Regions from separate parts of the Homo sapiens genome. Here all the other regions are linked to region 3. Evidence: fine-mapped expression QTL. A gene starts in region 3. Each other region holds a variant in brackets. All regions are shown on one strand. Distances are from middle to middle. Region 1 has its middle 11 kb from the start of GRAMD1C. Region 2 holds the start of GRAMD1C (GRAM domain containing 1C). Region 3 holds the start of ATP6V1A (ATPase H+ transporting V1 subunit A).

Region 1 (8,183 bases), 81 kb before region 3:
TTTGAAGAAGTAATGGCCAAGAAAGAATGAGGAAACTCTTTATGCACTGATATATAAAGATCTACAAAAAATTTTGTCACATTAAAAAAAAGTAAGGTGCAAAACAATATACAGTGCCAAAAATGCATACTCTGAATCTAATTGTGAGGAAACAGACAAACTGAAATTGAGGGACATTACTTGAACTCTTCAAAAACATCAAACTCATAAAAGGCAAAGAAAGACTGAAGTGTTCTTTCATACTAAAGAACACTAAAGATATATAGCAACTAAATACAATGTGCGATTTTGTCTTGGATCCTGAACCAGAAACATTTTGTTGTTGTTGTTGTTATAAAGAACATTACTGGGACAACTGGAAAACTTTGAATAAAGTGTAGGTTACATTATAGTATTGACTCAGTGTTAATTTCCTGTTTTTGTTTTTTGAGACAGAGTCTTGCTCTGTCACCCAGGCTGGAGTGCAGTGGTGCGATCTCAGCTCACTGCAACCTCTGCCTCTTGGGTTCAAGCAATTCTCCTGTCTCATGCTCCGGAGTAGTCTCAAGTGCATACCATCATGCCAGGCCAATTTTTGTATTTTTAGTAGAGATGGGGTTTTTACAGGTCACCCTGGCCTCGAATTCCTAACCTCAGGTGACCCACCCGCCTTGGCCTCCCAAAGTGCTGGGATTACGGGCATGAGTCACCATGCCCATACAATTTCCTGTTTGTTATAATTGTACTATGGTTAGGTATGGGGATGTGCTTGTTTTAGGAAGTGCAGTCATGCATTGCATAACAATGTGTCAGTCACTGCATTCAACAGTGAACCACAAGAAAACAGTGGTCCCATAAGATTATAGTACAATATTTTTACTGTACTTTTTCTATGTTTGGATACACAAATACTTCTCATTGTGTTACAGCTGTCTTCAGTATTCAGCATGGTAACATGCTGTCCAGGTTTATAGCTCAGGAGCAATAGGCTATTCCATATAGCCTAAGTGTGTAGTAGTAATACAGGAGATAGAATTTAGGCAGATAGTAAGGGTAAGAGTCCTCGGTGGAACTCCCCTTTTAACAAAAAGCAGCCACCAAAACATTTCTTTTCTAACAAAGAGCAGCCTGAAAAATCAAGCCGCAAACATAGATAAGCAAGCTAAAAAGCTTGCACAGGTGAATGCCAGCCTCAGTGCCAATAGAAAAGGGCTACCTGGATGCCAGGCATGTTCAACAGGGAGGGTCCTCTTCTCTTTTCTTTGTCACCACGTGTACAGTAAAGAGGCAGGCAACATGGTGCCTGGCCATGTAGAGAACCCATCTCCATAATAAAAGATTAGGGTGGAGTGGCCAGCTTCTTTGCATGCTGTGCAAACCGCACACCTAGTCCTAACCAGTTCTTCGTGTGCTATGCAAATGACACACCTGGTCCGACCAATCTTTTGTGCCCTATATAAATCAGATACCACCTCCCCAAGATCATCTATTCAACCTTCTGCATTTCACCATGGAAGCAGCAACCCATATTCTCTGGGGCCCCTCTCTCTGCAGCAGAGAGAGCTTTTCTCTTTATTTCGCCTATTAAACTTCTGCTCTGAACCTCACCCTGGTTTGTCTGCGTCCTTGTTTTCCATGACCGTGGGACAACGAACCTCAGGTATTACCCCAGACAACAACATCACCTCAGTAGGCTCTACCATTTAGATTTCTTTAAGTACATTCTAGGATGTTGGCACAACAGCAAAATTGCCTAATGACGCATTTCTCAGAACATATCCCAGTTGTTAAGTGACGTATGACTTTGTACACTGATATATTTGATCTAGCTCACCCAAATGTTTCAGAAAAAAAAATTGTGTGCCAAGAGAGAATAATAAATAAAGCAAACATGAAAATCTGAGTAAAAGTTTTATGGGAAGCCTTTGCACTATTCTTGCAACTTTCTTATTTCAAGTAATTAAAAACTATTATAACTCAATAAATAAAGTGAAACCACCCTCCACAGTTGTGTCATTTTTTTTTTGTAGTTGCACAAATGCAAACACAGAATGGACACAGTTGGATTTAGTTGGAGGTTTTGGAGGGTTTCTTGAGACAGGGTCTCTCTCTATTACCCAAGCTAAAGTGTAGTGGCATGATCACTGTTCACTGCAGTCTTAACCTTCTGGACTCAAGTGATCCACCTCAGCCTTCCAAGTACCTGGGGCCACAGGCCCACACCACCCCATCCAGCTAGGTTTTGGGGAGTTTTGTTTGTTTGTTTGTTTGTTTGTTTTGTACAGACTGGGCCTCCCTATGTTGCCCAGACTGGTCTTAACTCCTGGCCTCAAATGATCCTCCTGTTCTGGCCTTCCCTCGTGCTGGGATTACAGATGTGAGCCACTGCACCCAGCCTAAGGTTGATTTTTACCAGGCAAGTACGCTAAGTCACAAGAGAAGCAAGGGAGATAAGTATGTATGCAAGGATTTGGCAATAATGATTGCCCCTGGAGTCCAAGCAGGGTTAAGAAGCAAAATAAGGTCATAAGAGTGTCAAGGCCAATGAAAGTGTGAGGATTAAATGTTTGTAAATCTAGTTGAGATTAAAGGACTGCTGGTGATAGAAGTGATGAGTTGGAAAGATACAAATGGTACTTGAAACTGAGATTGTGGACAAATTGCAGTTATAATGATAAGTTCTATGATATGAGCATGAGAGTGGGTGGCTGACAGGAGTGGTGGTTCAGATTGTTGGGGCAGAGGACAAGGCACTAAGAAACCAGGAATTGAAAGTATAACCTTAGTGGCTATTGAAATCACCAAGTGCAGAAAGAGTAGGGTAGAAGAAAGCGACATGAGCAAGGAGCAAAAATCTTCAATGAAAAAGGGAACATGGATTGTGAGTTTATAGATGACTCCAATAAGAAAAGGCAACTGGTGGCATAGTGTTCTGACATGAAATTCAAAGATAGAGTGTTAGGGAAGAGTGAAGGAAAAGAGTCTGGAAGTAATAGGAAAAAAGAAGACAATCACTTTTTCTTGGGCCCATTGGTGCTCCAGCTACTATAGTTGCATGACAAATCACCCAAAACCTTAGTGGCTGAAAACAATAATCATTCATTATTTCATGGTTTCTGTGGGTCAGGAACCTGGAGCAGCTCAGCTCCTCAGTTCTAGCTCATGGGCTTTCAGAGGTTGCCCTTAATCAAGTGGATATCCAGTCATCAGAAGACCTGATAGTGGCTGGAGGATCCACTTCTATGGTGTCTCACTTACATGGCCGGGCACCTGGTACTGGCTATTGGTTTGGGACCTCAATTCCTCTCCATATGGACATCTTCACAGAGCTGCTTCAGTCCTCATTGCATGGCAGTGCCTTTCCTCAGAGCAGGTAATCCAGGATACCAAGGTGAGGACTACAGTGCCGTTTATGACCTAACCTTGGAAGTTATAGACTATCATTTACACCGCATTCTATTGGGGTCAGTCAGCTCTGATTCACTGAGGGAGGTGACTCCACAGGGCATGAATGATAGAGGCCAGGATCAATGGAGGCCTTATTGATTGGAGGCCAATGGAGGCCAGGATCAAAGAAGGCCAGATCAATGGGAAGTTACAAGTGATATGATGGTGTGGGAGAGGAAACAGACACCACTTGAGAGGGCTTCAGGGAAAGCCGTTTCCTCTCAAGTTTCAGGGGAAAACCAAGTATCAGTGCAAGCTTGTCCAACCCGTGGCCCACAGGCCACATGCGTCCTAGGACAGCTTTGAATGCAGCCCAACACAAATTCGTAAACTTTCTTAAAATATTATGAGAGTTTTTTGCCATCAGCTGTCATTAGTATTAGTGTATTTTATTTTATTTTATTTTAAGATGGAGTCTCGCTCTGTCACCCAGGCTGGAGTGCAGTGGTGCGATCTTGGCTCACTGCAACCTCTGCCTCCCGGGTTCAAGCAATTCTCCTGCCTCAGCCTCCTGAGTAGCTGGGACTACAGGTGCATGCCACCACGCCCGGCTAATTTTTTGTATTTTAGTAGAGGCGGGGTTTCACCGTGTTGCCCAGGCTGGTCTCAAACTCCTGAGCTCAGGCAATCCGCCTGCCTCGGCCTCCCAAAGTGCTGGGATTACAGGCATGAGCCACTGTGCCCGGCCTAGTGTTAGTGTATTTTATATGTGGTCTGAGACAATCCTTCTTCCAATGCAGCCCAGTGAAGCCAAAAGATTGGACACCCTTGAGTTAGAACAAGATGAAGAAAGATTTTTAGAGAATTTTCAGAGAAAACTCAAAGAACTTAGGTTATAGAAGATTTTGTTGGCTGGGTGCGGTGGCTCACGCCTGTAATCCCAGCACTTTGGGGGGCCGAGGCAGGCAGATTGCCTGAGCTCAGGAGTTCACAACCAGCCTGGGCGACATGGTGTTGAAACCCCTCCTCTACTAAAATACAAAAAATTAGCCGGGCGTGGTGGCATGCACCTGTAGTCCCAGCTATTC[G/A]GGAGGCTGAGGCAGGAGAATGGCATGAACCCAGGAGGCCGAGCTTGCAGTGAGCCGAGATAGTGCCACTGCACTCCGGCCTGGGTGAAAGAGCAAGACTCCATCTCAAAAAAAAAAAAAAGATTTTGTTCATGTCTGATCCTGAATTCCACAACGCACTAGGGAGGGAGTTTTGGAGTTAAGGGCAGGGCTGGTGGGGAAGAAATGAGTGCTGAGGAAATAGATAGGGTGCTCAGAAGCATGCAGCAGTCCTAGGGTCACCTCTTTATTTTATCCCAAGGAGGCCCAGAGGTGGGCTACCGATGGTATGCCACTTTTTGCCCCTTCACTAAGTAGAGTGTTCCTGAAGTACAGCTCTGTAACTCACATTTCAATATTAGAAAGAGCTTGAAGGAGTTTACAAACTTCACTCTTTCAAATTTGTTAAATGTTCAGTATGACTAGTTTTAGTATAGATCCTTGGGAAATGTCATTGTTAATTTTTATCACTTTTTTCTAGTTTTGCTAACCCATAAATAGTGAGTTAACATATCTTTATAGACCTAATGAAGTGGGTCATGCCTGTAATCCTAGCTTTTGGGAGGCTCAGATGGAAGGATTGCTTGAGGCCAGGAGTTCAAGACCAGCCTGGGCATCACAGCAATCCATCCCTAGGAAAATTTTTAAAATGTGTGTGTGTGAGTGTGTGTGTGTGTGTGTGTGTGTGTGTGTGTGTGTGTGTGTACACATATGTATCTAACTTTGTTCCTTCCTGAAACCCACCCAAATTGCAATAAAAGGAGTTGTGGACAGACAGAACAGGAGAGGAAGCAAGAGCAAGAAACTTGTAAGCTGAAAGGCAGGGGAATGAATTGCAACTGAATTATAAAACTCACTCTCTCTGACCATATTTTTGCCAGACATCTAGTGTCTGGTCCAGGTGCTCAAAGTCTGGTGAGTCCTAGGCTTTCCAGGACTGCCTGTAGGGCTCCTGCCCACTGACTTTCCAAAATGACCTCTAGGACAACCAAGGACCAAGCTGATTTACACCTCAGAATGCCCAAAAAACATGGGAAGACAACACCAAAATACCTGTGACACTGATGATTAAATAAGGAAAGAAGTAGAATTGTAGCTAAAATAAGGACTCAGGTCAAAGCTGCTTGCTTTATTTTTATTTTTTTATTTTTGAGATGGGGTCTCACTCTGTCGCCCAGGCTGGGTTGCAGTGGCACCATCTTGACTCACTGCAGCTTCCACCTCCTGGGTTCAAGCAAGTCTCCTACCTCAGCCTCCCGAGTAGCTGGGATTTACAGGGGCGCGCCACCATGCCCGCATTTTTAGTAGAGATGGGTTTTCGCCATGTTGGCCAGGCTGATCTCAAACTCCTGACCTTAGGTGATCTGCCCATCTCAGCCTCCCAAAGTGCTGGGATTACAGGCATGAGCCACCACTCTGGCCAGGTCAAAGCTGTTTGAAAAGCAGTTATATCCCTAGGTCATCTCCTTGTCTCCATGCTGCTAGGCAATTTTAATTTTCAGATGTATATGTCTCAAAAAATATGCCACCCACCTTACTTAAGAAACAAGCTACTGGAGAAACAGCTCATTAAGAAACCAGTAAAGATAAAATGTGGGCGATGAAAAACAAGCACTAGGATAGAGATGGCATTCCCCAAGTGGTAGATCCCAGAATGACAGCTGCAGACTAGACATAGAAGGCAAGTAGTCCAGATTGGAGCCATGCAACTCAAGAGACAAGCTGATTGAGTGCTGTCATCACCAAGATCCCTATTGCCATTTATCTTCTTTTTAGCTGAAGACAGAATTTCCCTATGAGTCATGTTCAGAATCTTTTGTGTACTTTGCTTGTGAAGTTCCTATTCTCCCTCCATGCTCTGCTGCTTCACCCCACAGATTTCTGGTTTGACTTACTCCTGAGAACGAGAGGTAGCTATGATGGGTTTAGAAGCAGAAAACACAGAACAGTCCATTTTCTCTGACCATATTTTTGCCAAACATCCAGAATCTGGTCCAGGTGCTCAAAGTCTGCTTGAGTCCTAGGCTTTCCAGGATTCCTGAAGGCTCCTGCTCACTGACTTCCCTAAAAAAAGACTGTTTATTAACTCTCCGGGAACCTAACGCCAGATTATGATCAGTTTCTTTTCTCCTGAAAGGCTTTAAAAATCTGATAGTGACACCAGTCACCCTTTGCTTACACAGGAACATAGGTGACATATCTATAAATTAAAACAAGGCACTGATTAACACAAAAATCAGAGTAATGTTTATCTTTGGGGAAGGAAGAGAGTTGCAATTGGTGAGGGCTTCTATGTTACTCCAATATTCTATTTCTTTCTCTTTTTTTTTTGGAGATGAAGTCTTGCTCTGTCTCCCAGGCTGGAGTGCAATGGCGCATTCTTGGCTCACTGCAATCTTTGCCTCCGGGGTTTAAGCAATTCTCCTGCCTCAGCCTCCCAAGTAGCTGGGATTACAGGCATGCGCCACCATGCCTGGCTAATTTTTAAATTTTTGGTAGAGACAGGGTTTCACCATGTTGGCCATGCTGGTCTCAAACTCTTGACCTCAGGTGATCCACCCACCTTGGTCTCCCAAAGTGCTGGGATTACAGGCGTGAGCCACCATGCTCGGCCCCATATTCTATTTCTTAATCTGAGTGATGGGTACATACATATGTATGTTTTTTTTAATTGTCCATGTTAATACTATATATTTTTCTGTAAATAAACATTTACTTAAAAAATAAATATTTTTAAGTAAATAAACAATGAAAGTAATTATGTTTTTATTTAAATGTTGCTTATTGAGTATTGGATTGACAAACATTTTTGTTTTGATTTGAATAGTTTTTGTAGGATAAATATATACAGACACATATATATATATATATCTTAAAAGGAAAAAACCAATATAGAAAAACAGGCTTAGGCTGGGCACAGTGGCTCATGCCTGTAATCCCAACACTTTGAGAGGCCGAGGTGGGAGGATCATCTGAGGTCAGGAATTGGAGACCAGCCTGGCCAATGTGGCGAAACCCCGTCACTACAAAAAATACAAAAATTAGCTGGGCATGGTGGCGTGTAATCACAGCTACTCTGGAAGCTGAGGCAGGAGAATCACTTGAACTTGGGAGGCTGGAGGCAGAGGTTGCAGTGAGCCGAGATAGTGTCACTGCACCCCAGCCTTGGCAACAGAGCGAGACTGCATCTCAAACAAACAAACAAACAAACAAAGCGGGCTTAAGTTAAGTTGGGTAGAGAAAGGGATAAAATTTCCAGGGACTATAGAATGAGATCCACTGAACAGAACAAAGTTTAAGGCTGGTAAAATAAGGATATGTGCAAAATAGAAGCCAGTGTTAGAGTGAAAAGAGAAAAGTACAAACTGAGAGAGTTCCTAGGTCATTTGCTAAGGATATTAGATTTCCAGATTCACATTTCATTAAACTATAAATTATTTAAATACAACTTGTGTCAATTTCTGAAATGAGATGCCTTATATTATCTAATGTTGCACTATAACCTATGGTGTTAAATAAATTAACCTACCTAAATTTGACCTGCCATCTCTCTCATTCCTCTCCTTTCTGCCTCAATGATATCCACCAACCTCTCAATTTTAGCATTGCTATTTTAAGTAAAAATGCTTTGCCTTTACAAATAAATAAGCAAATGTTTTCCAATAAACTATTGATAGCGTAATTAAATTTAGAAATTAATGGCCGGGTGCG
Region 2 (8,183 bases), 94 kb before region 3:
ACACATAGAGTCAAGAATGTTTGTTAATACTATGAAAGTGGAAATAACCTCACCGTCCATCAATAGAGAAATTAGTAAATAAGCTCTGATTTATACAAACAATGGAGTTTAAACAAACAAATAAGATGTGCCAGCTGTGCGAGGTGGCTCACGCCTGTAATCCCAACACTTTGGGATCACTTGAGGCCAGGAGTTCAAGACCAGCCTGGCCGATATAATGAAACCCTGTCTCTGCTAAAAATACAAAAAATTAGCCAGGCATGGTGGCCTGTAGTCCCAGCTACTCGGAAGCTGAGGCAGAAGAATTGCTTGAACCCAGGAGGAGGAGGTTGCAGTGAGCCGAGATCACACCACTGCATGCCAGCCTGGGTGACAGAGCCAGACTCTGTCTCAAAAAAATATGGGCCCATCGGGTAATTGCTCAAGTAAGATCACTCATCAGGCAGTTAAAAAAAGAAAAAAGCAAATATGGAATAGGGGAGTAAGGAGGAGTAGCCATTATAAAAGCATATGGGCCAGGCACAGTGACTCATGCCTATAATCCCAGCACTTTGGGAGGCTGAGGCAGGAGGACCTCTTGAGCCCAGGAGTTTGAGACCAGCCTGGGCAACATAGTGAGACCCCGTCTCTACAAAAAATATCAAAAAATTTGCCTGGCATGGTGGCATGCGCCTATTGTCCCAGTTGTTCAGGAGGCTGAGGTGGGAGGATTGCCTGAGCCTGGGAGGTCAAGACTGTAGTAAGCCATGATCAAGCTACAGCACTCCAGGCTGGCCGGCAAAGCAAAACCCTGTCTCAAACAAACAACAAGAACAAAAAAAAAAAAAAAAAAAAAAAAAACAGCTTATGGTGGACCAGGATCCTTAAATATCTCTGCTGCTGCTGCTCCACTTAAGCTTGAGGTTCTTTTTGTTTTGTTTTTTTTTTGAAACAGAGTCTCACTCTGTCGCCTAGGCTCGAGTGCAGTGGCGTGATCTCGGCTCACTGCAACCTCTACCTCCCGGGTTCAAGCGATTTTCCTGCCTCAGTCTCCCGAGTAGCTGGGATTACAAGCGTGCACCACCTCACCCGGCTAATTTTTGTATTTTTAGTAGAGATGGAGTTTCACCATGTTGGCCAGGCTGGTCACAAACTCCTGACCTCACGTGATCAGCCCACCTAAGCCTCCCAAAGTGCTAGGATTACAGGCGTGAGCCACTGCACCTGGCCAAACTTGAGGTTCTTAAACCCTATAAATAACCATTGCCATGGGGGAAGCCTCTAATCACAATGATACTGATTTGAGGCTCTCTAGAGAAAGAAATTTGTAAACATGAGAGGGTAGAGAAGACCTCCTCCACCTGAAGTATATCCAGTAACCTCCAAAAAGAGAGGGAGAAACCAACAAACCTGGATAGAAGGGGAGGAAACATACAACAGCAAAACAAAAACAAACAAAAAAAACTGAAACTGAAGTCCATAAACTGATCTAACAAAACATACAGAATTTAAAATAATTTACAGGATAAAAGATAAAAGACTGGCTTTTGTGCCTCTACAACATAGGTTCTAAGTTAACTTCAACATCAGCTAAAATGCGGCAATTGGCAAATCTTCATGGCTTTAATCAATATTGGGTCTCAAATTACAGTTATACCTAGAGTTCCCACTAAATTTAAACAAGGTATCCCCTACAATCTTAGGAGTTATTCAACATAAAATAGACAACAAATAGGTATGCCTCACTTTAACCATCAGAACTATACCTTTGCCTAAATACTCCACGATGGTGGTATACATTGCCCTGAAATATCCTATTGTGGCCATGGACACTCTGACACAATTAGTAATAAACTAAATTTAAATCAAGTCTTTAGAGCTTACAAATTGGCTTTCAAAGAAGTGGGACAACAGGCTGGGTATGTTGGCTCACACGTATAATCCCAACATTTTGGGAGACTGAGGCAGGAGGATCACTTCAGGCCAAGAGTATGGAGAACAAGCTGGGCAATACAGCAAGGCCCCCTCTCTACAAAAATTTAAAGATTAGCCTGGCATAGTGGTACACACATGTAGTCCTAGCTACTTGGGAGGCTGAGGTGGGAGGACTGCCAGAGTCCAAGAGTTGGAGATCACAGTAAGTTGTGATTGCACCATTGTGCTTCAGCCCAGGTGACAGAGCAAGACTCTGTCTCAAAATAAACAAAACAGTGAGACCCTATGGACCACCACTCTCAATGCCCAGTTAAAATTATACAACCCAATATAAAACAAAACAGGGCCTTCAAGGACTAAAACTTGTTATGTAAGACCTACTTCAGCCAGGCACGGTGGCTCACGCCATGCTGTAATCTCAGCACTTTGGGAGGGAAAGCCAGGTGGATCACGAGGTCAGGAGTTCAAGACCAGCCTGACCAACATGGTAAAACCCCATCTCAACTAAAACAAAATACAAAAATTAGCTGGGCGTGGTGGTACGTGCCTGTAATCCCAGCTACTTGGGAGGCTGAGGCAGGAGAATTGCTTGAACCCGGGAGGTGGAGGTTGCGGTGAGCTGAGATTGTGCCACTGCACTCCAGCCTGGGCGACAGAGCAAGACTCTGTCTCGCAAAAAAAAAAAAAAAAGAAAGAAAGAAAGAAGTACTTTGTGAAAGTAATTATCCCTACTGCTTCTCCATTTAACAGCCCAATTTGGCCTGTTAAATTTGGTAAGAATGAATGGTACCTCATGGTTCATTACTGCATCCTCGATGATGTCATTTTACCCAGGAAGGCCCCTATACTCAACATTGTTGAAATTACTGACTATCCAGTCCACAACTAGTAAATATTTTGCTGTGATAGATTTGGCTAATATGTTCTGTTCAGTGTCTCTTTCAACACCTCCTCAGCCATAGTTGGTCTTCACCTCCAGAGAGACATAACATCTCTTTACCAGGCTAACCATAGAGTACGCAGTCTTGCCATCATACACAGCCTTTACAGGAAAGATCTTAACTGCATCAAATTTTCTCCAGGAGCACAAGTATAACATTCCATTGATGACATCCTCCCCTGAGGACAGTCTTTTGACATACTCACAAAGGAGCTCACAAAAGGAGGATGGGCTATTGTGCCACACATAGTGTAAGGCCTACCACCTTGGTTAAATTTCTGAAAATAATTTGGTCTCTGTCACCCAGGCTGGAGTGCAATGGCACAAACAGGGGTCACTGCAGTCTCAACCTCCTGTGCTCAAGTGATCTTCCTATCTCAGCCTCCCAAATAGCTAGGACCACAGGCGCCACACAACCATGCCCAGTTAATTTTTCTTTCTTTTTTTTTTTTATTTTGGTAGATACAGGGTCTTGCTTTGTTGCCCAGGCTGGTCTCAAATTCCTGTCCTCAAGCGATACTTCTTTCTGCCTTGGCCTCCCAAAGTGCTAGAATTACAGGCATGAGCCACTGCACTGGGCCACAATGGCTGACTTAAATTCAAATTCAAATTCAAATGGTGCAGGTCAGTCATCAAACATCAAGGGTGAAAAAAAGACCTGGAGCCAGTTTTTTCCTGAGGCTCTCTTAAGCCATTTTAGTGCTGCTTGAGAGGCCTGCCTTGCTCTCCCTGGAGACCTTAATTATGTAAGTAAAAGACTTTTTCAGGGCCGGGCGCGGTGGTGGCTCAAGCCTGTTATCCCAGTACTTTGGGAGGCCGAGGCGGGCGGATCATGAGGTCAGGAGTTCAAGACCATCCTGGCTAACACGGTGAAACCCCGTCTCTACTAAAAACACAAAAAATTAGCCGGGCGTGGTGGCGGGCGCCTGTAGTTCCAGCTACTGGGGAGTCTGAGGCAGAAGAATGGCGTGAACCCGGGAGGCAGAGCTTGCAGTGAGCCGAGATTGCGCCACTGCACTCCAACCTCAGGGTGTGTGTGTGGCATCATCAGTTTCTACTCCAACCTCATGGTGTGTGTGTGGCATCATCAGTTTCTACACCTGAATCAAATTTGGGATGGGGGTCCATTCTGGCTTTCTGGGGTGGCTACAGTAGATTCCTGTCTCTCTGACTTATTAGCTGTGTGGTCCTTAGCAAAGTCAATCTCTGTACATCTGTTCCTTAACTCTACAATAGAGGAAATAATTTTATCTCTAGTCTAGACAATAAGCTTATTGAGAGCAGGGATCATGTCTGTGTTAATCACCATCTAATCCCGAACACCCAGTGCCAGGGACATAACTGAATCAGTGACTGATTGGGTTCATGAATATCCAGCTTGACTATTTCATAGTAATGTTTTTCAAATCAAGTGAAATAACACTCATTCATCTGTTCATTCAACAATTATTTGTGTACCTCCACTAATCTGTAAACTATAACGCTCTTCAGAAGATATAGCACTGACCGCAGTTCTCTAAAAGTAAAATACATACACACAAACCAATGTAGAAGGAGGATGGTGTTCAGAAACGCAGGCGCCCGTCCAACAAAAGCGGGGTTTCATCCTGAATATTAATAAGCACGCTTTCCGTTTTGTCAAATAAGGTAGTAAACAAATAAAACTAGACTAGTTGAAATCAAAAACTTGGCTGACAGCACAGTGATTTAAACTATCCGGACCTTTACAACAGGGCTGAGAATGAAAGGAAGGGGGCAAGGCTGGAAAAAACGTTGACAGTGGGTCAGAATCACGACCATGGGGCCTGACCCAAGGGGGCCTGG[G/A]GCTGAGACATCCGCACCAGGACATTTCGGGACCAAATTCAAGCCCTCAACGCCCACAGGGAAGCAAATGTCCCCACCACCGCCCGTAGGGAAAGGGCTCGCAGAGGCACAGGAAACCGTTTCCTCGGTAACAACTTTCCGTATTACTCCAAAGAGCACGAAGAAAAGGGAAGGGAGGGATTAACTGTAATCTGAGAAGGTTCAAGCAATCACCGTGAGAAAAAGTAGGCTAAAGCCACAGATGGGAACCTGCCCCAGCGAGGCCCGCGGCTTACCTGACGGACAGTCGGAGCGCCCTCCATCGCGGCTCCCTCCGCCGCCGCGGCACCGCCCCGCGCGCACCGCACCGCACCGCCCCGCGCCCACCTCCAGCGCGCGCTGCGAGTTACAGGCTCCGCGCGCCTCCTCCGCCGGCCCTCCGAGTACTTCCAGCCGCAGCTCCTTGCGCCCTCTGGCGGCCGTGAAGGATTCCTGACGATGGGTGTTACCGGGTTAGCCTGAAGGCTTGTCTTTCTAGGGGTCACAATGAGACTTCCCTATTCCCAACCTCAAACTACTGTGCCTCCCAGGAAATGGCATACCCTGCCCCAATGTGCGAAAAGGTGAATTGCTCGGAAACTTTTTTTTTTTTTTTTTGAGACGGAGTTTCGCTCTCATTCCTCAGGCTGGATGGAGTGCCAAGGCCCCGTCTCGGCTAACTGCAACCTCCGCCTCCCAGTTCAAGCGATTCTCCTGCCTCAGCCTCCCGAGTAGCTGTGGTTACAGGCGCCTGCCACCACGCCCGGATAATTTTTGTATTTTTAGTAGAGACAAGGTTTCACCATGTGGGTCAGGCTGGTCTCGAACTCCCCACCTCAGGCAATCCGCTGGCCTTGGCCTCCCAAAGTGCTGGGATTACAGGCGTCAGCCACCGCCCCCGGCCAGGAAACTCTTGTTCCTTCCAATAAAGGATTGAAGTTACTGATTAACTGCTGTACGTATTGCAGATTCTTGGTTCTGTAAACCAAAAATAAAATGCCGAGGCCCACCCCCAGCCATCTAAATGGACCCCTCCTCTTGGCCAAGAGCGTTCCAAATTTAACCTGAAAATCTAGTTCAGGCCATGATGAAAGAGGGGATTGGACATGCCTCATTAACATCAACACAGACCTTAAGTCTGAGAAGAAATATTTATCATCTATTGCCTCGGACACCTGCTACTTGGAGGCTGCATCTGCATGATAAAACCTTGGTATCCACAACCCCTTATCCTAACCCAGACATTCCTTTCTACTGATAATAACTCTTTTTTCTCTTTTTCTTTTGAGACAGGTTCTGGCTCTATTAGACCAGCTGGAGTGCGGTGGCGCAATCTCTGCTCACTGCAACCTCCACCTCCCGGACTCAACCAATCCTCCCACCTCAGCCTCTCGAGTAGCTGGGACTACTGGCGTGTGCCACCATGCTTAACTACTTTGTTTGTTTGTTTGTTTGTTTGTTTGTTTGTTTTTTGAGACAGGGTTTCGCCATGTTGCCCAGACTGGTCTCGAACTCCTGGACTCAAGCAGTCTGCCCCCTTCGGCCTCCCAAAGTGCTGGGATTACACGTGCAAGCCACAGCTCCCAGTCAATAATAACGCTTTCAACCAATTGCAAATCAGAAAATTTTTTTATGTACCAATGACCTGAAAGTTCCTCCTTCTCGCCTTGGAGCTGTCTCCCCTTCCAGATTGAAACAATGTAAATCTTACATGTATTGATTGATGTATTAGGTCTGCCCAAAATATATAAAAGCAAGCTGTACCCCAACCACCTTGGACACATGTCATTGGGACTTCCTGAGACTGTGTCACAGGTGTGTCCTTAACCTTCACAAAATAAATTTTCTAAATTAACTGAGGCCTGTCTCAGATATTTGGGGTTCAGAGTTCCCAACCAAACAGCTATAAAAAAGACATTCTAAGCCAGGCACAGTGGCTAACTCATGTAATTCCAGCACTTTGGGAGACTAAGGTGGGAGGGTTGCTTGTGTCCAGGAGTTCAAGACCAGCCTGGGCAAAACAGGGGGGCCCCATCTCCAGAAAAGAGAGACAGAGAGAGAGAAAGAAAGAGAGAGAGAGGGAAGGAAGGAAGGAAGGAAAGAAGGAAGGAAGGGAGGGAGGGAAGACATTCTAGAACAATTGAGGAATAGTGAATATGAAATGGCTATTAGAGTTGATGTTACAGGATAATTAATGATTTATGTATACATTTATGGATATTCATTTATGGATAATTAATAATTTTTGGCAGCTGGGCGTGGTGGCTCAAGCCTGTAATCCCAGCACTTTGGGAGGCTGAGGTGGGAGGATCACCTGAGGTCAGGAGTTTGAGACCAACCTGGCCAACATGGTGAAACCCTGTCTCTACTAAAAATACAAAAATTAGTCGGGCGTGATGGTGAGCACCTGTAATCTCAGCTACTTGGGAGGCTGAGGCAGGAGAATCGCTTGAACCTGGAAAGTGGAGGCTGCAGGGAGCCGAGATCAGGCCATTGCACTCCAGCCTGGGCAAGAAGAGTGAAACTCCGTCTCAAATAATAATAATAAATAATAATAATAATAATAACTTGTGGCTATGTTGCAGGGTGTCTTTAATATTAGAAAACTCACACTAAAATATTTAGGAGTTCCCTGTTATCCATGGGGATGTAAAAAAAAAAAAGTATTTAGGAGTGAAGTAGCACCATGTCTGCAACTTGCTTCCAAATGCTTCCACGAAGATGAATACACAGAGAAAACAAAATAGCGAAACGTTAATTATTGGACCTAAGTGGAGGGTATACTACTATTCAGTTATTCTTTTACTGTTTACATATATTTAAAAATCATAATGTAAAGTTGAAGAGATGGAAAGGAGTTGAATCCAGTTCCACAAAATGTCAGACACTGAGTGTATTTCTTTTTTGTTTTGTTTTGTTTTTGTTTTTTTGAGACAGAGTCTCGTTCTGTCCCCCAGACTGGAGTGCAGTGGCACAATCTTGACTCACTGTAACCTCTGCCTCCCAGGTTTAAGCAATTCTCCTGCCTCAGCCTCCTGAGTAGCTGGGACTACAGGCGCCCACCACCATGCCCGGCTAATTTTTGTATTTTTAGTAGAGATGGGCTTTCACCATGTTGGCCAGGCTGGTCTCAAATTCCTGGCCTCAAGTGATCCACCCGCCACAACCTCCCAAAGTGCTGAGATTACAGGCGTGAGCCACTGCACCTGGCCATGAGCATATTTCTTAAATATATATGACATACTAAAGGACAAATTACTTAATAAGATAATCAGTAAAAGACAGGTTTCCATCCTCATTCTGCAAAACTTTGCATAAACTGTGTTCTGTTAAACATAAAAAACGTCACAGAACACTAATATTAAGCAAGGCCACTGTATGATCATGATAGAGTAAGACAAAAAGAAGGCCACTGGGTAATCATGTCTAAACACAGACAAAAATGTGAACATCGTTCGAAACACAGAAATGACTATGTCCCTATGCT
Region 3 (8,183 bases):
CTGCCCGCCTTGGCCTCCCAAAGCACTGGGATTACAGACACCACTTAGTTTTTAAGATATTTTCACATAGATTACCTAGGGTTTATGTCATAGGAAGGTTCCTAAGTATCAAACCTGAACCCCTCCCCAGCATTACGTAAAAGGACATATAACTAAAGTGGCAGAGCTGAATGAAGATCCTCTGACTTTTAGTCTAGTGCTAGTCCACTTATAGATCACGCAGAGCCACTTTTTCATTTAGTACGATTCATTCCTCTTCCCTTCTCTCCCATATTTTGATGATAACCATACTTATTAGTAAACAAACATGCTGTGAAAATAAGTTGGTCTCAGCATTAATAAAGTCCATCTGAGGTTTTTATCTATTGTATTGACCATGAATTTGGAAGGTTATTACCAGTTTATATTTAAAAGCTAACATTTAGTGCACAACTTTAGGAAGAGCTATGATCTGCAAAAATTAAAGTGGTTTAATTTCTTTGTCTAATTGCCCAACATTCATTCAATAAATAATTTATTGAGTACCTATCAGGTACTTCAGTATTCTGGTGCTGAAGACACAATAGTATTATAGTTCACAGTCCTGAGAGCTTTATGATTTGCTGAGGAAGAGCCCAGGGAACAGGAATTAAATACAATGCTAGAAGTGCAAGTAGAAGAATAGAAAAGATGATGATGATGATTAGTAGTAGTCTATAGGACTGAGTGGCTACCTCTGCCCATGGGGAAGAAAGCATTCTTAGTGGTGGCAAAAATCTATAAAGGCACTGAAAACAAGAACTCAGGAAAAGAAAACCAGAAGTGCCAAGGGCCCTAAAATAAAACCAAACCCTTATGCTTTATTTAATAGTGGACTATAGCACAATTCCCTAATAAATGTTAAGATTTCTACATGTAACACTCATAAACTGATAAGGCTAGTCTCAGAAATGTTTTCCAGGCTTCCAATCGTGTGTGTGTGTGTGTGTGTGTGTGTGTGTGTGTGTGTGTGTGATCTGTGTATAATGTCAAAGCTTTTTTTCACATTTAACCTTACTAGCAATGTAATCACCAATTCCCACTACTAATCTACATTTCATCAGTGGTCTAAGTTATTGCTTTCACGAGTTCCCTAAAACTGGGGGAATTGTGAAGTAAAACTGCAGACTCATCCAACCACTTTCATACTGACATTTTCCCCTCTAGTAGTCAATGCTTCTAGCTGGTTTTCTCTTTCACATTTTGGTCTCAGCCAGACAGGACTAGTTAGGACTTCCAGACCACATAAGGAATTCTCCTTACGTGGTGCAATGTCACCTGGTCACTGAAGTAACACTTCCTTTTTTTCTTCCCCTCTCCTCTAGAGATCAAGGAACCTTATTATGGAGAAAATTAATGGATAAAACTACATATATATATCTACAGCAGGCATGATGACATAAATATATCAATACATTAGTCTATTGTCCAGTATGGGTCGTAAGTACGAAATGCTAAAATGGTAAATCCACAAGAGATAGTAGTAATCTTCATTACTTGGGGAAAGCAACATCTCCGAGGTTATGTTTTCTACTAAGGAGCATCAATAAGCTAGGTTATGTATTTTGCACTTACTATAAAAATACTTTGTTAAACTGCTGCTATTGTAGAATTTTAACTTTTTATTCTCCTTAACAAAATAAGACCGTTTATTGTATAGAATTTGGAAGACACAGAAAAACAAAAATAAATCAGTCACATCCACCAAAGATGATTCCATCTTCCTCATTTTCCAGCAGTCTTCTTTAATTACCTTAGTTAGAAAACTACAAGATTTAACTGAGCATATAATTTTTCATATTAAGAAAGGTGTAATTTAAATTTTAAAAATCAAATTTGTAATATTCGTAAGACCTTCAATTGAAAAGCAGCATGGAATTTTCTGAGTTTGCAGTATAAATAAAAGAGTTTAACCACAAACTGAAAAACATTCTTCCCTAAAGCACATTGTTTGGGATCAAAACATTGGTAATAATACATTATGGACGGAATGGGAGTACTTGGGTTGGACAACACCTGTATTTTCAATTGGACAACAATTTCTGTATTTTCACAAAATACTATTCATCAAAATCTGAAGAGGGCACCGGGAGTTTTACAAATGGGGAAAGCTAAAGAGGGATACAAATGCTACTTAACCTAAATTTACCACAAAGCCGATCAAGGAATAGATTGGGAGTGCCAATTCAGTAGTATTTTAGGGGAAAATGACAAAAAGGGAAGGATTGACGGCAGAAAACATGTGCAGACAGCAACATCTCGACTTGATTCTACCTTTAAGCATATGGCCAAATCAATTTGGTTTAACTATTTCCAACCCAATCAGTTTCTTATTTCGGTTTCAGGGAACCCTACTCACTCTTCCCTAAACCAGCCTGGGCCTCCTGCACACCACAACACCACAATACCATCTTTCAACGCCTCCTCATTCAATCGAGACTGTCGCATTACTAACACCTCCTGTTTTGAAGACAGTATTCCTTCAACTGTCCTCTCTGCAGAGAAGAAAAAGTAAAAGCCCTTCTTTTACTTTTCTAGTCCCATCCGAAGCACGTGAACATCTACGGAACCTTCCCTGCAGGTATGTCAGATAAAATCCTTAGAATCACTGAGAAAGCACATTCGGAGGGAAGCTTCACAGTGACTCTGCAGTGAGGGCCGTATCAGTGACAGTCCCTCCCAAGCCTGTCTCACCGGAGACGCCTCTGCCTCCAGGGTTTTTGCTACCTCCCCGCTCCTCAGCCCTGAGCTGAGGGTAAGGACAGTGAGGACCTTTGCCAAAGAATGGGCTTTAAGGAATGGGACCTAATGTCTACTGCAGACCCTGTGAAATGGCTGAAACAATCTGCTACCCGAAGCCCCAAAGGCTCTGAGTAGGGAACCATAATGGCCGCACTCACTTCCAACCCTGGGAAAGGTGGACATCTGAATCCCCAAGTAGCGGGAACGACCACACTTGGGGGAGCGGGGGTTAAGGAGAAATGAGCTCCTTGCCGGTGCAGGGTGACAGCGGGGAGGAAGCCTCAGGCAGAAAAGTCGCCGTTCACACTCTCCCTTCTCTCCTTCCTCTGCCTCCTTCCACCCCCTCTATCCCCACCACTCGCCAGTTACCGGTCGCCGCTCACCTGCTGGGGCGCGAGGTGCAGAGACTGTACCGACCGAGGACCCAGAGGCTGTCACCACGGAGGGGAAGTCCTCAGCTGCACAGGTTGGGGGGGGGGGGGGGGGCGGGCCCAACCAGTCACATGACGTCGAGCTCCGCCCTGCCTCCTCCATCCCAGCGCTCTACATCTCGGGGGGCCTGAATTTTTACGGATCCCTTGAATATTAATTTTCTTGGATTAAAGAAATAAAAGATAAATTTTCACAAAGAGTATGTTATAAAGTACAATGTGGAAAATGTGGACAGCAAGAGTTAAAGCGCATTGCTAAGGAAGTGACGTTCACGCCACAATCGAGGGACAGGAAATGGCGGTGGCGTTCCGTCCCTCTGGAGTCCGCCGGTAAAATTCCAGGCTCTGAGGTTTGGGCCAATCACGTGATCTTAAAACTTGAGGCGTGCTGGAGGGTAGCCAATCTATCTGGCCGATTGTTAACTACGTTTGTTTTAAAACACCTAACTTAAACTTGAGCTTTCCACAGATTTCTTTACATTTAGAAGAACTAACTTTATAAAACCCTACTAGGAGGCAACAGCGTTTGAAGGTCACTCTGGAGACCACAAACTGGGAAGAACGGGGCTGAGAAAAACTATCTTGCGGATATGGGACAAGAGAGGGAGGGGTGGAAAAATCTGGATTTTACCGCCAGGGCCTACCGAGCCAGCCCCACAAGCAGTGTCGTAAGCGGGTGGGAGGGAGGAGCATGACCCCAGAAGGCCCAGTCCAGGAGAAAGATGGAGGTTCCGGAGTGGAGGGGGCAGGGTGCGCGGAGGCGAGCAGTGCGGCTGCGCGTGAGGCGGCGGCGCGCCGGCGCGCGAGGGGCGGGGTGAAAGGTCACAGCGCGGCAGCGGGTCTGGCTGGCGGCAGCGGCGGGAGGGAGCCGAGAGACCCGAGTGCACGTGTGGAGAAGCGGCGGCACAAGCGCGGCGGCGGGAGACACTCCCGCCCCCACCAGACTCAAGCCCTCACTCGACTCTCGCGGCCTTCGTTGCTCGCACAGCTCCCTGCCCAGGCTAGGAGGCCGGCTTGCGGGGTTGAGTGGCCCGAGCTAAGGGTGCGGAGACCTAAGGGCGGCGACTACGACGGCGTTGATATCGGTGGTAACGACGGCCTCAGCAGGCGGGGAAGATGAAAGGGTGAGGAAGGGCAGCCGGGCAGGGCCCGGCCGGTGGGGTAGAAGGGTCCGGGCCCATGTAGAGGGGGAGAGCCGCAAAGGCGAGGAGAGATTCAGGGCGAAGACGGGCGGAGGGAGATTTCTCTGCTTCTCAGTTCCCTCGGCTCCCGGAGGGGGCGGAGGCGAGGCTCGGGCTGTTGGCGGGCTGAAGGGCCAGCGGAGGCAAGACCCGGGGGGCTTCAGGGTTTCGGTTCGGAGACGAGTGTGGGTTGTTGAGTGGGGAGAAGCGACCGAGTGGGGCAACATGGAAAGGCTATTGTGAAGCGCCCGGGGCCTCCTTCCCGGGAGCGGACCGCTGAGCCACGCCGGCCCGCAGCTCCAGGTGGAGTGGTTTGGTTGTCTTCCACCTCCAGACTCAACTCTGGAACTGCGGTGTTTGACACCTTTCAGTTTAATTCACGCTTGGGAGCTGTGCAGAACCTTCTGGAGGAAGAAGAAATTGGAATAAAGAGCACGGGGATGAGTATTAAGAGCTAGTGACTCAACTAGATTTGGGTTGGGTCACAGCGAGTGGAGGAGGGGGAGAGAGCGCGATCACTGTAGACTTGGGGTGCCAACATATTTAAGGAAGTATAGGGTGGATCAGTAGGTGGAGCTGTTGCTTCAGTAGTTCACTATTGCCCCTGAGTGCTGAGGCGGTCCTGGGTAGTTCTACCACGCTGCTCCTTTCAGGTGATTGGCAAAGTTAATGTTCGGTCTTTCACCGTTTGCCTCTTACGTAAAATTAGGAATTATTTTGGATCGACTGGTTAAGTTTTTATGAAATGTCTCCTTACCATTAAGTTGTATAGTTTTAATGTATTAATTACGTAACATTTTTCCGAAGCATTGTCTCAAGCCGTTTTGGAGCTTGTCTTTACCCTCAAAGAGATGAAGCTCATAAACGTTAAAAAGCTCTCTGCGATGCCATAGTTTGTTGTTGTAAGTCGATTAAGAAGTCGTAACTATGTTTTAAGTTAACGAAGTCATTCCAACTATTCAATAGCACTTTTGAGGATGAAATAAAAGTCACTTTCAACGTAATCTCATACTGCCCCAAACAAGGACCTAAATATTACCTCTGTGTATCGGTATTTGAGGTTCCTGAAGAGATTCCAAGAAAGTTTAATTTGGTCTTAGGTCTGTAACATGTTTCCTTACTTTAATTTTCCTTTAAATACTGGATATTTATTCTAATGTTGAATTGTATGTTTTGTACTAATAATCTTTAAAGTTTAAGAACCATGAACTATTCACAGTACCTGCATTGTTTCACATCAAGTTGTAAAGAGTTCCAGTTAGGGAAATATAATTGACGGGTATAGGAAGTATTTGCTCCACTTGAATCATGATCTTGGAAGTTTGGCTATTTCAGATACAATCCAACATATTTGGAGAATGTTGTTTTTCTGCTATACTGCACTCCTTTTGTTTTGTTCTTTTCATTTTTTTTTTTTTAATGAGGCAGGGTCTGGCTCTGTTGCCCAGGCTGGAGTGCAGTGGCGCTATCTCGGCCCACTGCAACCTTTGCCTCCCCAGCTCAAGCAATCCTCCCGCCTCAGCCTTCCGAGTCGGTGGGACCTCAGGCGCGCACCACCACGCCTTGCTAATTTTTTGTATATTTTGTAGAGACGGGGGTCTGACTATGTTGGCCAGGCTGGTCTCAAACTCCTGAGCTCAAGCGATCCACCCACCTCTGCCTCCCAAAGTGCTGGGATTACAGGTGTGAGCCACTGAACGCGGCATATACTGCACTTCTTGAACATGGTTGCTGACTCTTACTCATTTTTGTACTCATTGTCAGGCACTCAGTACTTGTTTGTCATGTTCTGTTAAGTAAGAAAAATGAGGCTGAAGAGTTCCCAGTGTTGAAATTGCCATGGATTTACGAAGGGGTTGCCAGGAAATTATTCTGTATGTTTAGATCCAAAATCTTCAATCTAGTTCAGTCTCCATAGGCTGTGATGTTCTTTCTGATACATAACTTGGCGATAGAAATGAAGCTGAACAGTCATATTATTCACAATCTACCTTGAATTAATATATTCATGGAGCAATTATCTCTGTTTAAAATGGGTATTTACATGTAACCTGATGAAGGCAGATCCCTAGAAATAACTGGCCGAATTTAGAGGAAACTTACAACTATTGAATCTGTACCTTTATGCCAGTAACTATGCCAGTGAAGTTCCTATTACTTCTTATGATTGGGAGCTTAGAATTGTGTTCTTTACTGTAAACCTTTAAGATGATTTCACAGGAATAATCCCTTTAACTTAACAAATGAACTAACTCCCAGATGAGATGAAACTTTTTAATTTTTTTTGCTTCTAAGTCTGTATTTAAGACACTCAACAAATGAGTTGTGTGAATCTTACTTGTGCTTGTTCGGATACTGAACCTACAACAGTATAGGTTTAAAATAAGTTAAGCGCCTTGAGTTCCAAAACTTGTACCACAGTGCACAGTGTGGTCGATTTTAAAGTCCTGACTCTTAATTTGGAATGGCCTGTAAAAACGAAACAGTGGTCCTGGTTATGTGGCTTTTGTATGAAATTTTATTTGCTAAGTATTCTATTGTATATTGAGGTAAGTAAACAGTAAATTGAAATATCTAAAATTGGAAACTGCGGAAGTCCCAACACGAAGCCAGTCAAATATTTAAAATTGTACACTGTTGCCTATGTTGCCTATCATATTGAAACTTAAAACTTAGCTGGTTTTTCTTCATATTTTTACCATGAGTATTTTTATTAGTAGTAGCAGTAGGACTTTCCATTGTATTGGCATGTCTTTCCTCCATAGAAGATAAATTTCCGGTTATTAACTACTGAATGTAATTTATATGCACATGTAGAAGTTTGAGATATACTAGGAAATGTTGCTTACTTTTGAGGTTGGCTGTTTTTATGAACCAGGGACATTGTAGTTTGAATTTGTGGGTGATATTTTTATCTGTTCTTCTCTAGGGAAGGCGATTTCAAGCAAGAAGGTATGCCACAGATAACCATGACTGAGGTGGCAATGTAATTAGGCAGTGTAATGGAAAGTATAATAAAACCAAATCATTTAGCCTTCAATTGTAGTAAAGAGGTGCAAATTAGTTCTAATAAAAAATGTCTTTAACAAAATGTGAATACGTGACTAAGATGGGAAAGTAGGTAGCAGTAATATAAATATGGAACAATGTTGACTACTAATTGGAATAGTAAAGGGAGCCATTTTACCAAATAAAATTAAAATGTAAGATTCTGCAGTCAGAAACAAAACTTTAAAAACTCCGAACAGTGGTTACCTCTGACAGCATATGGACTGGGAAGGGGCAAAAGGAATGCTTTTTGCATCTCAGCATAGTGAGACCTTGTCTCTACAAACAATAAAGCAGCCAGGAGAATCACCTGAACCTGGCAGGTGGAGGTTGTAGTGAGCTGAGATCGTGCCACTGCATTCCTGCCTGGGCGACAGAGTGAGACTCTGTCTCAAAAAAAAAAAAAAAAAAGCCAGGCATGCTGGTGCAAGTCTGTAGTTCCAGCTACTTGGGAGGCTGAGGCAGGAGGATCACTTGAGCCCAGGAGTTCAAGGCTGCAGAGAGCCATGATCTTGTCACTATATTTCAGCCTGGGCAACAGAGCGAAAACTGGTCTTAAAAAACAAAACAAAACAAAACTTTTTTTAAAGGTTTATTGCTGTTTTGTTTTTCAGCAAAACCAAAAGCTAGTCAGGCTGACGTAGCATTTGACACCTTTTATAAACCTACAGTTTATACTTCTTCCTTCTGTGAAACAATTTGTGGTTTGTTGATTGAGATAGTGAATTTTAACAAATACTTTGTAATGTGCCCTTGCTGTGTT

The links. PIP is the estimated chance that this variant, and not a neighbour inherited with it, causes the effect.
Region 1: its variant is fine-mapped to the expression of ATP6V1A in whole blood (TOPMed, PIP above 0.99).
Region 2: its variant is fine-mapped to the expression of ATP6V1A in whole blood (TOPMed, PIP above 0.99).

Annotation. Positions count from the first base shown.
Region 1 is chr3:113,823,334-113,831,516 of GRCh38, reverse strand. It overlaps a transcript of GRAMD1C not described here. Among named protein-coding and RNA genes, the nearest start is that of GRAMD1C, 11 kb to the left of the region's middle. RefSeq lists an enhancer at 470-619. The variant G/A (reference allele first, on the strand shown) is at 4,455.
Region 2 is chr3:113,835,707-113,843,889 of GRCh38, reverse strand. It overlaps GRAMD1C (GRAM domain containing 1C), which reads right to left and starts at 5,102. Exons shown (of 18, transcript NM_017577.5): 1 at 4,954-5,102. The coding sequence starts at 4,980. RefSeq lists a silencer at 4,890-5,089. The variant G/A (reference allele first, on the strand shown) is at 4,679.
Region 3 is chr3:113,742,074-113,750,256 of GRCh38, reverse strand. ATP6V1A (ATPase H+ transporting V1 subunit A) reads right to left here and starts at 3,222. Exons shown (of 15, transcript NM_001690.4): 1 at 3,144-3,222. It overlaps NAA50 (N-alpha-acetyltransferase 50, NatE catalytic subunit), which reads left to right and starts at 4,008. Exons shown (of 5, transcript NM_025146.4): 1 at 4,008-4,315. The coding sequence starts at 4,308. RefSeq lists enhancers at 3,265-3,634, 2,956-3,691, 3,692-4,427, 4,675-4,824, 4,428-5,164 and a silencer at 3,985-4,104.